Regions from separate parts of the Homo sapiens genome. Here region 1 is linked to region 2. The links come from fine-mapping of genetic effects on gene expression. A gene starts in region 2. The other region holds a variant in brackets. All regions are shown on one strand. Distances are between the middles of the regions. Region 1 overlaps KCNQ1 (potassium voltage-gated channel subfamily Q member 1). Region 2 holds the start of KCNQ1 (potassium voltage-gated channel subfamily Q member 1).

The links. PIP is the estimated chance that this variant, and not a neighbour inherited with it, causes the effect. A credible set is the group of variants that fine-mapping cannot tell apart.
Region 1: its variant is the best candidate, but not a certain one, in a credible set for the expression of KCNQ1 in whole blood (TOPMed, PIP 0.76).

The regions. Positions count from the first base shown.
Region 1 is chr11:2,477,502-2,481,884 of GRCh38, reverse strand. The region is part of intron 1 of KCNQ1 (potassium voltage-gated channel subfamily Q member 1); the gene reads right to left. Among named protein-coding and RNA genes, the nearest start is that of KCNQ1, 35 kb to the right of the region's middle. The variant G/T (reference allele first, on the strand shown) is at 1,862.
Region 2 is chr11:2,442,838-2,447,220 of GRCh38, reverse strand. It overlaps KCNQ1 (potassium voltage-gated channel subfamily Q member 1), which reads right to left and starts at 2,213. Exons shown (of 16, transcript NM_000218.3): 1 at 1,737-2,213. The coding sequence starts at 2,122. TRPM5 (transient receptor potential cation channel subfamily M member 5) reads left to right here and starts at 2,707. Exons shown (of 29, transcript NM_014555.4): 1 at 2,707-2,790. RefSeq lists silencers at 2,224-2,293, 2,304-2,413.

The sequences.
Region 1 (4,383 bases), 35 kb before region 2:
TACATTGTAATATAGAATTAAATAATTATACAACTCACCATAATGTAGAATCAGTGAGAGCCCTGAGCTTGTTTTCCTGCAACTAGACAGTCCCATCTGGGGGTGATGGGAGACAGTGACAGATCATCAGGCATTAGATTCTTATAAAGAGGAGGCAACCTAGATCCCTCACATGCATAGTTTGCAACAGGGTACACACCCCTGTGAGAATCTAATGCCGCCACTGATCTGATAGGAGGCAGAGCTCACGCGGTAATGCGAGTGATGGGGAGTGACTGTAAATACAGATGAAGCTTCACTTGCTCACCTGCCACTCACCTCCTGCTGTGCAGCCTGGTTCCTAACAGGCCATGGACTGGTAGTGCTTCATGGCCTGGGGGTTGGGGACGCCTGGCTGATGGCCACACAGCCTCGGGGAAGCAGCCTAGCTGTAGACGTGCAACTCACTCCTGACTGCACTGTGTGTGTACACGCCCTTAACACACACACAAAGACCAAGTAGAAACATGTGCATGCACGCGCGCACACACACACGCCGAGAAAAAGACTAGCAGGAAACTAAAAGCTGGCATCTCTGGCTTTTGGTACGATGAGTCATTTTACTTTTCTTCTTTAAAAATTTCTGCACGTTCTCTGATTAACATTTCTGAACTTTACAATCAGAAAAACTGATCTACTAAAAGCATTTTCTTATGTCTGGTGAGGAGTAACTGGAATTGTCATCTGCTTTGGATGAGAACTAGTGACATCACACATCGCATCAGTTCACTGCAGAAGAGACCACCACCCGTTCTCGTGGCTATGAGTGAAATCCAACATGATGTGGTAATTCTCTTCTAACTTTCGATTTATATGATTTCATTTCAAACTTATAGAGAAGTTGCAAGAATAGCAGAAGGAACTCCCAAACGTGCTCTGCTTAGACTTGCCTGCGGTTTCTACACTGCCCCCGTCCTGCTCCATCCTGTCCCTCTCCAGACTTCCCTCTTTTGGTTGAATCTTTCTGAGCCCTTGGAGACACCATGCCTGTTTTCTGCTAAACGCCTCCTCATGGATTTCTTAGGAATAAGGGTGTTCTCTTCTGTAACCATGTGGTACTGTTGTCAAAATCGGGAAACAACACTGACATGCACACTACAGGTCTCTATTGCACACTACAGTTCTCTACCTCACACTCTCACATCATCAGCTGCCCAGACACTGGCTATTGCAGCCATCTCTTCCCAGACAGGATTCAACTCTGATATGGTTTGGCTGTGTCCCCACCCAAATCTCATCTTGAACTGTAGCTCCCATAATTCCCATGTGTTGTGGGAGGGACCCAGTGGGAGATAATTGAACCATGGGGGCAGTTTCTCCCATATTGTTCTCGTGGTAGTGAATTAAGTCTCATGAGATCTGATGGTTTTATAAGGGGGAACCCCTTGCACTCTGTTTTCATTCTCTCTTTGCCAGCTGCCACGTAAGATGTGCCTTTGCTCTTTCTTCATCTTCCGCCATGATTGTGAGACCTCCCCAGCCATGTGGAACTGTGAGTCAATTAAACCTCTTCCCTTTATAAATTACCCAGTCTCAGGTATGTCTTTATCAGCAGCATGAAAATGGACTAATACAGTAAATTGGTACTGGGAGTGGGGTGCGGCTGTAAAGATACCCAAAAATGTGGAAGCAACTTTGGAACTGGGTAAGAGGCAGAGGTTGGACAGTTTGGAGGGCTCAGAAGATGACAAGAAAATGTGGGAGAGTCTGGAACTTCCTAGAAACTTGTTGAAGGGCTTGACCAAAATTCTGATAATGATATGGACAATGAAATCCAGGCTGAGGTGGTCTCAGATGGAGATGAGAAACTTTTTGGGAAGTG[G/T]ATTAAAGATGACTCTTGCTATGTTTTAGCAAAGAGACTGGCAGTATTTTACCACTGCCCTAGAGATTTGTGGAACTTTGAACTTGAGGGAGATGATTTAGGGTATTTGGTGGAAGAAATTTCTAAGCTGCAAAGCTTTCAAGAGGTGACTTGGGTGTTGTTAAAAGCATTCAGTTTTGAAAGGGAAACAGAGATAAAAGTTCAGAAAATTTGCAGTCTGAAAATGTGATAGAAAATAAAAACCCATTTTCTGAGGAGAAAGTCAAGCAGCCTGCAGAAATTTGCATAAGTAACAAGAAGCCAAATGTTAATCACTAAGACAATGGGGAAAATGTCTCCAGGGCATGTCAGAGACCTTAGGAGCAGCCCCTCCCATCCCAGGCCCAGAGGCCTAGGAGGCAAAAATGGTTTCCTGGACTGGGCCCAGGGCCTCCATGCTGTGTGCAGCCTAGGGACTTGGTGCCCTGTGTCCCAGCCGCTCTAGCCATAGCTAAAAGGTGTCAAGGTACAGCTTGGGCTGTGGCTTCAGAGGGTGCAAGCCCCAACTCTTGGTAGCTTCCATGTGGTGTTGAGCCTGTGGGTGCACAGAAGTCAAGAATTGAGGTATGGAAAGCTCTGCCTAGATTTCAGAGATGTATGGAAATGCCTGGATGTCCAGGCAGAAGTTTGCTGCAGGGGTGGGGTCCTCATGGAGAACCTCTGCTAGGGCAGTGAGGAAGGGAAAAGTGGGGTTGGAGCCCCCATGCAAAGTCCCCACTGGGGCACTGCCTAGTGGAGCTGTGAGAAGAGGGCCACTGTCCTCCAGATCCCAGAATGATAGATCCATCAACAGCTTGCACCATGTGCCTGGAAAAGCTGCAGACACTCAATGCCAGCCTGTGAAAGCAGCCAGGAGGGAGGCTGTACCCTGCAAAGCCAGAGGGGCAGAGCTGCTCAAGACTATGGGAACCCACCTCTTGCATCAGCATGACCTAGATGTGAGACATGGAGTCAATGGAGATCATTTTGGAGCATTAAGATTTAACTGCCCCACTGGATTTCGAACTTGCATGGGGCCTTTAGCCCCTTCGTTTTGGCCAATTACTCCCATTTCAAATGGGTGTATTTATCCAAGGCCTGTACCCTAATTGTGTCTAGGAATTAACTAACTTGCTTTTGATTTTACAGGCTCATAGGTGGAAGGGACTTGCCTGGTCTCAGATGAGACTTTGGACTGCAGATTTTTGAGTTAATGCTGAAATGAGTTAAGACTTTGGGGCACCGTTGGGAAGGCATGATTGGTTTTGAAATGTGAGGACATGAGATTAGGGAGGGGCCGGGGTGGAATGATATGGTTTGGCTGTGTCCCCACCCAAATCTCATCGTGAATTGTAGCTCCCATAATTCCCACGTGTCATGGGAGGGACCTCGTGGGAGATAATTGAATCATGGGGGTGGTTTCCTCCATGCTGTTCTCATGGTAATGAATAAGTCTCACGAGATCTGATGGTTTTATAAGGGGAAACCCTTTGTGCTCAGTTTTCATTATCTCTTTGCCTGTCATCATGTAAGATGTTCCTTTGTTCTTCCTTCATCTTCTGCTGTGATTGTGAGGCCTCCCCAGCCATGTGGAACTGTGAGTCAATTAAACCTCTTCCCTTTATAAATTATCCAGTCTCAGGTATGTCTTTATCAGTAATTTGAAAATGGACTAATACATAACATAGTGGAATCATAGACTCCCACTTAGGCATCACATTTCTTCCTTCCCCTTCACCCTGAACGGTACTTTATTTAGCCTTCTACGTTTTTTGGCCCTGGCATTTTCAAAGTATTCAGGCCACTGTGTGTGTCTCCCTCCATGTGGGTTTGCCCTGTGTCTCCGGATGATTCGACCCTGGACAGCTGTGTCTTTGGCAGGAGTTCTGCTACCGAGGCTGTCCATCCGGAGGGTGGTGAAGCTGGCCTGTCCCATTCCTGGTGATGTTAACTTGGATCACTTGGCTCGGGTGGTGTCGCCAGCTTTGCCTCTAGAAAGTGATTCTTTTTCCTTTGTAACTAGTAAGTGGTGGTGGGAGACACTGAGACTACAACCACCAGCTCTTTGAACCCCTGCCCCTGCCACGGGGTTTCCTTGATGGCCTTCCAGCCCTGTTGATTCTAACGTGAGAACTGGATTCCTTTCTTCCACTTATTTGTTTATATACATGGGTGTGTCCCTGTGGATGCATAGATTCTTTTTTCATGAATTATAATCCATTACCACTGTTGTGTGTGCATGTGTGTATGTATGGTCTTTTTTTTTTTTTTAATAAAAAGAGATGGGGTCTCACTATGTCACCCAGGCTGGTCTCCTGAGCTCAGGCAATCCTCCCACCTTAGCCTCCCAAAGTGGTGGGATTACAGGCATGAACTACTGTGCCTAGCCTACATGTGTGGTCATTTTTAACACACTATGGGTTTAGTCTGCCATCATAATGAGGATTTTCATTGCTCTCTGTGTACATATCACTGGTCTGTAGTTTTCTTTTCTCTCTGCTAGT
Region 2 (4,383 bases):
TTCCGAGACCTAAACAATCCAAATGAGGAAGAAAACACAAGTGCAAGCAGAGACTTCCTCTGGGGCGTGGCGAGCCCTCTTCCTCCTCTTCCTCCACACGGGTGGCTGCAGTGAGCCCGGAGGCATGTGTCCACAAACCTGAATACAAGTGAGAATTGAGGGGGTCTGCGGGCACTTTGCCTTGGCCTCTGGCTGAGGAGGTCTTCCCACCCTTGGACATCTCAGAGAGTCTGGGGTCCGGGAGGCAGGTGGCCACCAGCACACAGCACCTGTGAACCTGGCATCTGCTAGACATTTGCACAGTGGCATCGGACTGGGTTCCCCTGGGGTCACTGCACACAAATATCTCCCAAACCCCAAGCCGAGCCCCCGCTGTTGCAGCCACGAGCAGAGCCAGCTCCTCTCACAGACCAGCAGCGGCTGTGGCTCAGGCACCCACTGACATGTCAGGAGACAGGGGCTTGGGAGCTGGGGTGGGGAAAAGTCTCCAAGATCACCCCCCAACCACATCTTTGAGGAGGGAGGTGGGTAAGACTTCCCCTTCCTGATGTGGAAGGCCACCTCTTAGCAAGGAAGGCAGTAGCCCTGCGACCCCTACCCCACCCCCTCACCTGAGACGATGCTTGAAGCCATTTGGGGCCTGGCTCCTGCTGTCACCCGCCCTGAGGCCCTGGTGGCAGCTGCCAGCAGGCATGGACAGGCCTCTGGATGCCCTCCAGCCAGTTCTCTACTGAGCCTGCCCGAGGCAGAGGAGATGCTTCCACCTGAGGACGCTCAGGGAGACCACCCTTCAGCCCTCAGGTGAGCCCCACAGCCATCAGCCATGGGATGTCTGGGTAGAGGCTCCCAGGCCAGAGGCTGGCACCACACCAAAAGGCCGCTGGCTGGGCAGCCAGGAAGTAGGGCCACTGGGGCAGCGGGGGAAGGCCCCAGGCAGGCATGGAGGAGAGCAGCCTGGACCTTCCCGGAGGTGACTTCCCAGGCCTGTCCCTGAGAAATCCAGTGCCCAGCCCTGCTCAGGCACGCTGTACCGGGAATTGGAACCACCTGGTAACAGGGGGGCCAGGTGCCTCTGCTACCAGCGCTGCTTTCTCCGGGAGCACAGCTGCCTCTTAGTGAGAGCTGCAAACGTGCCTCTCCGCTCTCTGCATCAAGCCAGGTTTTCATGAGCTTGGTTCAATTAGTTAATGTGGGGCCCGTGGGGACGGCCCGTGGCATGCTGAGCCCTCAGGGAGCACCGCCACCGTCACCTTCCTATCCTGGACAGCCCCCTGCCCCAGAGTCCACCTGGGCCTCAGGGGGTCTGAGATGCGGCACCGGACATCAGGGGCCTTCTCTCTTGGGGGCTCCTGAGCCTCGAGTCTCAGCCGACCTTGAGGAGTTATCTTACTGCACCCAAGGGTGCGCTCCCCAGCACGCTTCTCTTCCCAGAAGGATTCACACCTGGACTACCCTCCCGGAGGTGTGGAGCCAAATTCTGGGCTCCAGGTGGTCCCCTCCCCAGCCGGCTCCCTCCCCACGCCGGGCCTGCGAGAAGATGCGCACCCCCAGACACAGCAGCGCCTCTGAACTTCAAGGGAGAGTGCAGAGTTTGTGTTTCTGCGTTTCCCCACTTCCTTCCCTCCTCTGCTCCGGGGTCGCAGCTCCGACGGGGCAGGTGGCGCTGGGACAGAGCTCCCCCACACCAGCTCTCAGGAAGCACCTTCGTGCCGGCCGTCGCCGGTGGCGATACTCACACGGCGAAGTGGTAAACGAAGCATTTCCAGCCGGTGGGACGCTCGAGGAAGTTGTAGACGCGGCCCTGGACGTGGGTGCGCGCCAACACCGGGCGGCGCGTGCTGTAGATGGAGACGCGCGGGTCTAGGCTCACCGGCGGCCGCGGGCCAAGGTCGGAGGCAACTGGGGGCGCGGCGGGCGCGGCCGGGGACGCAGGGGGCGCGGGACCTGGGGCGCCGGGCGCGATGGGCGCGTAGAGCGCGCCGCCCGCCGGGCCGCCCTCCGCCAGCTCCAGCGAGAAGGGGCACTTCTTGGCCAGGCCCGCGCTGCCCCGCCGGGCGCCTGGCAGGCGGCCCCAACCCCAGCGCTTCCTCTCGGCCCTGGGCGGGGAGGAGGCCGCGGCCATAACGAGGAGGGCCTGCCGGGGGGCCGGCCCGAGCGGCGGCACCGGGAGCTGCAGCGAAGGCGAGCGCCCGGGCGCAGTGCGGGCAGCCACTGCTGCCAGCCCCGCCGCGGGGGGCCGCTGCCGGCCCAGCCCGGGCGCTCGGGGCGGGGCCGGAGGGGGCAGTGGCCGAGGGCCGGTCCCATGGGACGGCGTGCCCCGCCCCCGCCTGCACGCCCCGCCCCCGCCGGTCCGGCGCGCACAGGGCGTCCCTGCCCGCGCCCACCGGCTTGGCCCGCCCTCTCCCCACGGACCGGCCTGGCCCTGCCTCCGCCTCACCCCCTGGCTTGGCCTGTCCGCGCCCCCGCCCCCGCCTGCGCCCCCGCCCCCACCCCCACCCCCGCCCGAGCCCACCTGCTTAGCCCCGCTCGTGTCATCTATCCCGCTTGGCCCCGCCCCCTCCTCGCCCACCTGTTTGGCCCCGTTCCAGTGTGCATTTACCCCGCCTGGCCCCGCCCCCTCCCCGCCCACCTGCTTGGCCCCGCCCTCACCCACCTGCTTGGCCCCGCCCCGTCTGCATCTCCCCTGCTTGCTCCTGCCCTGCCCTCACCCACCTGCTTGGCCCCCACTTCTGATGCCCGCCTGCTCTGCCTGGCCCGGAGGAGGACCCCAGCTGCGCCAGGGAGGAAGGGGTAAGGCCTGGCCGATACCACGACCGAGAACGGCACAGCGGGGGCAGGAGGGGCGGGGTAGGGTGCCGGCATCTACTTTCCCTCCCTCTGAGCCACTCCGGAGTTGGGGTTGGGGGGAGGAAAGGGATGTCCTGGGTGAGGGTGTGCTGGCCCCGCGATCACTGTGAGCGCCCCCGGGTGCCCAGGCGCGCGAGCTGCGGGCGGCGAATACGCTCGGGTCGCTTCCCACCAGGGCCCTTGGACCGGGAGGGTGAGATGGGACCACCACTGTCAGGTACCTCCCAGTGGGAGCTGTGTGGGTGGGGAGCCGGCAGGGCTGCTGGGGGGTGGGGGCGGCACAGCCGGGGTCTGGACCTGGTTTGACTGCCGGGCATAGCAGGCGGGGCTGCCTGGGCAGTTAAAGGGAGAGGCGCTTGCGCCACCCTAGTAACTTGGAGAATGGGCGCCTTGTCCTCCCCACCGTCGAGACCGCGCTGCCGCTGCGCCCCGTGGATTCCCCTGGGTGGGGGTGGGTTGGTCACATCGGAAGATTTTCACAGGTCTCTGCACTGCCTCCCGCCCGCTACTGGCATTTGGGTCTCAGCACGTCTCAGGCTTGGGGGGGGGGTGGGGGGCAGCCAACAGAAGAGACCGGCTTTTTTCAGGATACTGCACACAGCCCTGAGGCAGGGACTAAAGGTGGAGCTCAGCGGTGACTCTCCGCCCCGCCAGGAGACCCATAACTCATGTGACACTTCCAGGTCGTCCCTGAGCACCCTGGGTCAATTTGATGTATCTACCACCCCCTGCCAAAAGTCTGCTCTTTTATCGTGGACGGAGTCCAGCCCAGGCCCTTGACGCCTGACTCCCCACCCTAGTGAGGTGCCACACAGGAGTGCACAGTCTGTATTTGCAGCAAGAGTGGATGGAGTGGGTCCCAGCTTGTGCTGGGCGCTGTGATAACACAAGGGAGGCCGAGGAGAGGGTACCTTCCTGGGAAGCATATCAGTGAAGGTGCAGAAGGGCAGCGGGTCAGAAGATGGGGGCAGTCAGTCAGCTCTGCAGGGCACACAGCACGCATTCAGCAGTTACTTTCCGGGTGAACATACATACACCTGCATGGAGTCTCTGCCTTCCCCTCCCACCTCAGCAGGAGGAAGGTGAGCTTTGAATAAGCAGCGTTTGGACAACTGGACAGTCATAAAGAAAGAAAAAGCATACCTTGGGTCCATCTCACCGCACACGAGAATAAATCTCAAATGAATCAGAGGCTCAAGTGTAAAGGGTGAGATGAAGCCATGCAAATTCTACAAGAATGTACAGGTCAATTCCTCAAGAACCTGTGAATCGGGAAAACATTTCCAACTATGACTTGAAATCCAAAAGCAACAGATAAAATAAGAAAAATTAAAATAGAAGCACCATTAGCAAAGTAAAGGAGACAAATGACCAAATGGGAAAAGTATTTGCAGTTTCGATCACAAAGGATTAATATCACTGATACATAAAGAACATCAAAACTGAGGTGAGGAACCTGCCAGACAGTCCTATAGAAAAGGGAGCAGAAGACATGAGCAGTTCATAGGAAATGGGGTTCATGACCTTTGCACTTAT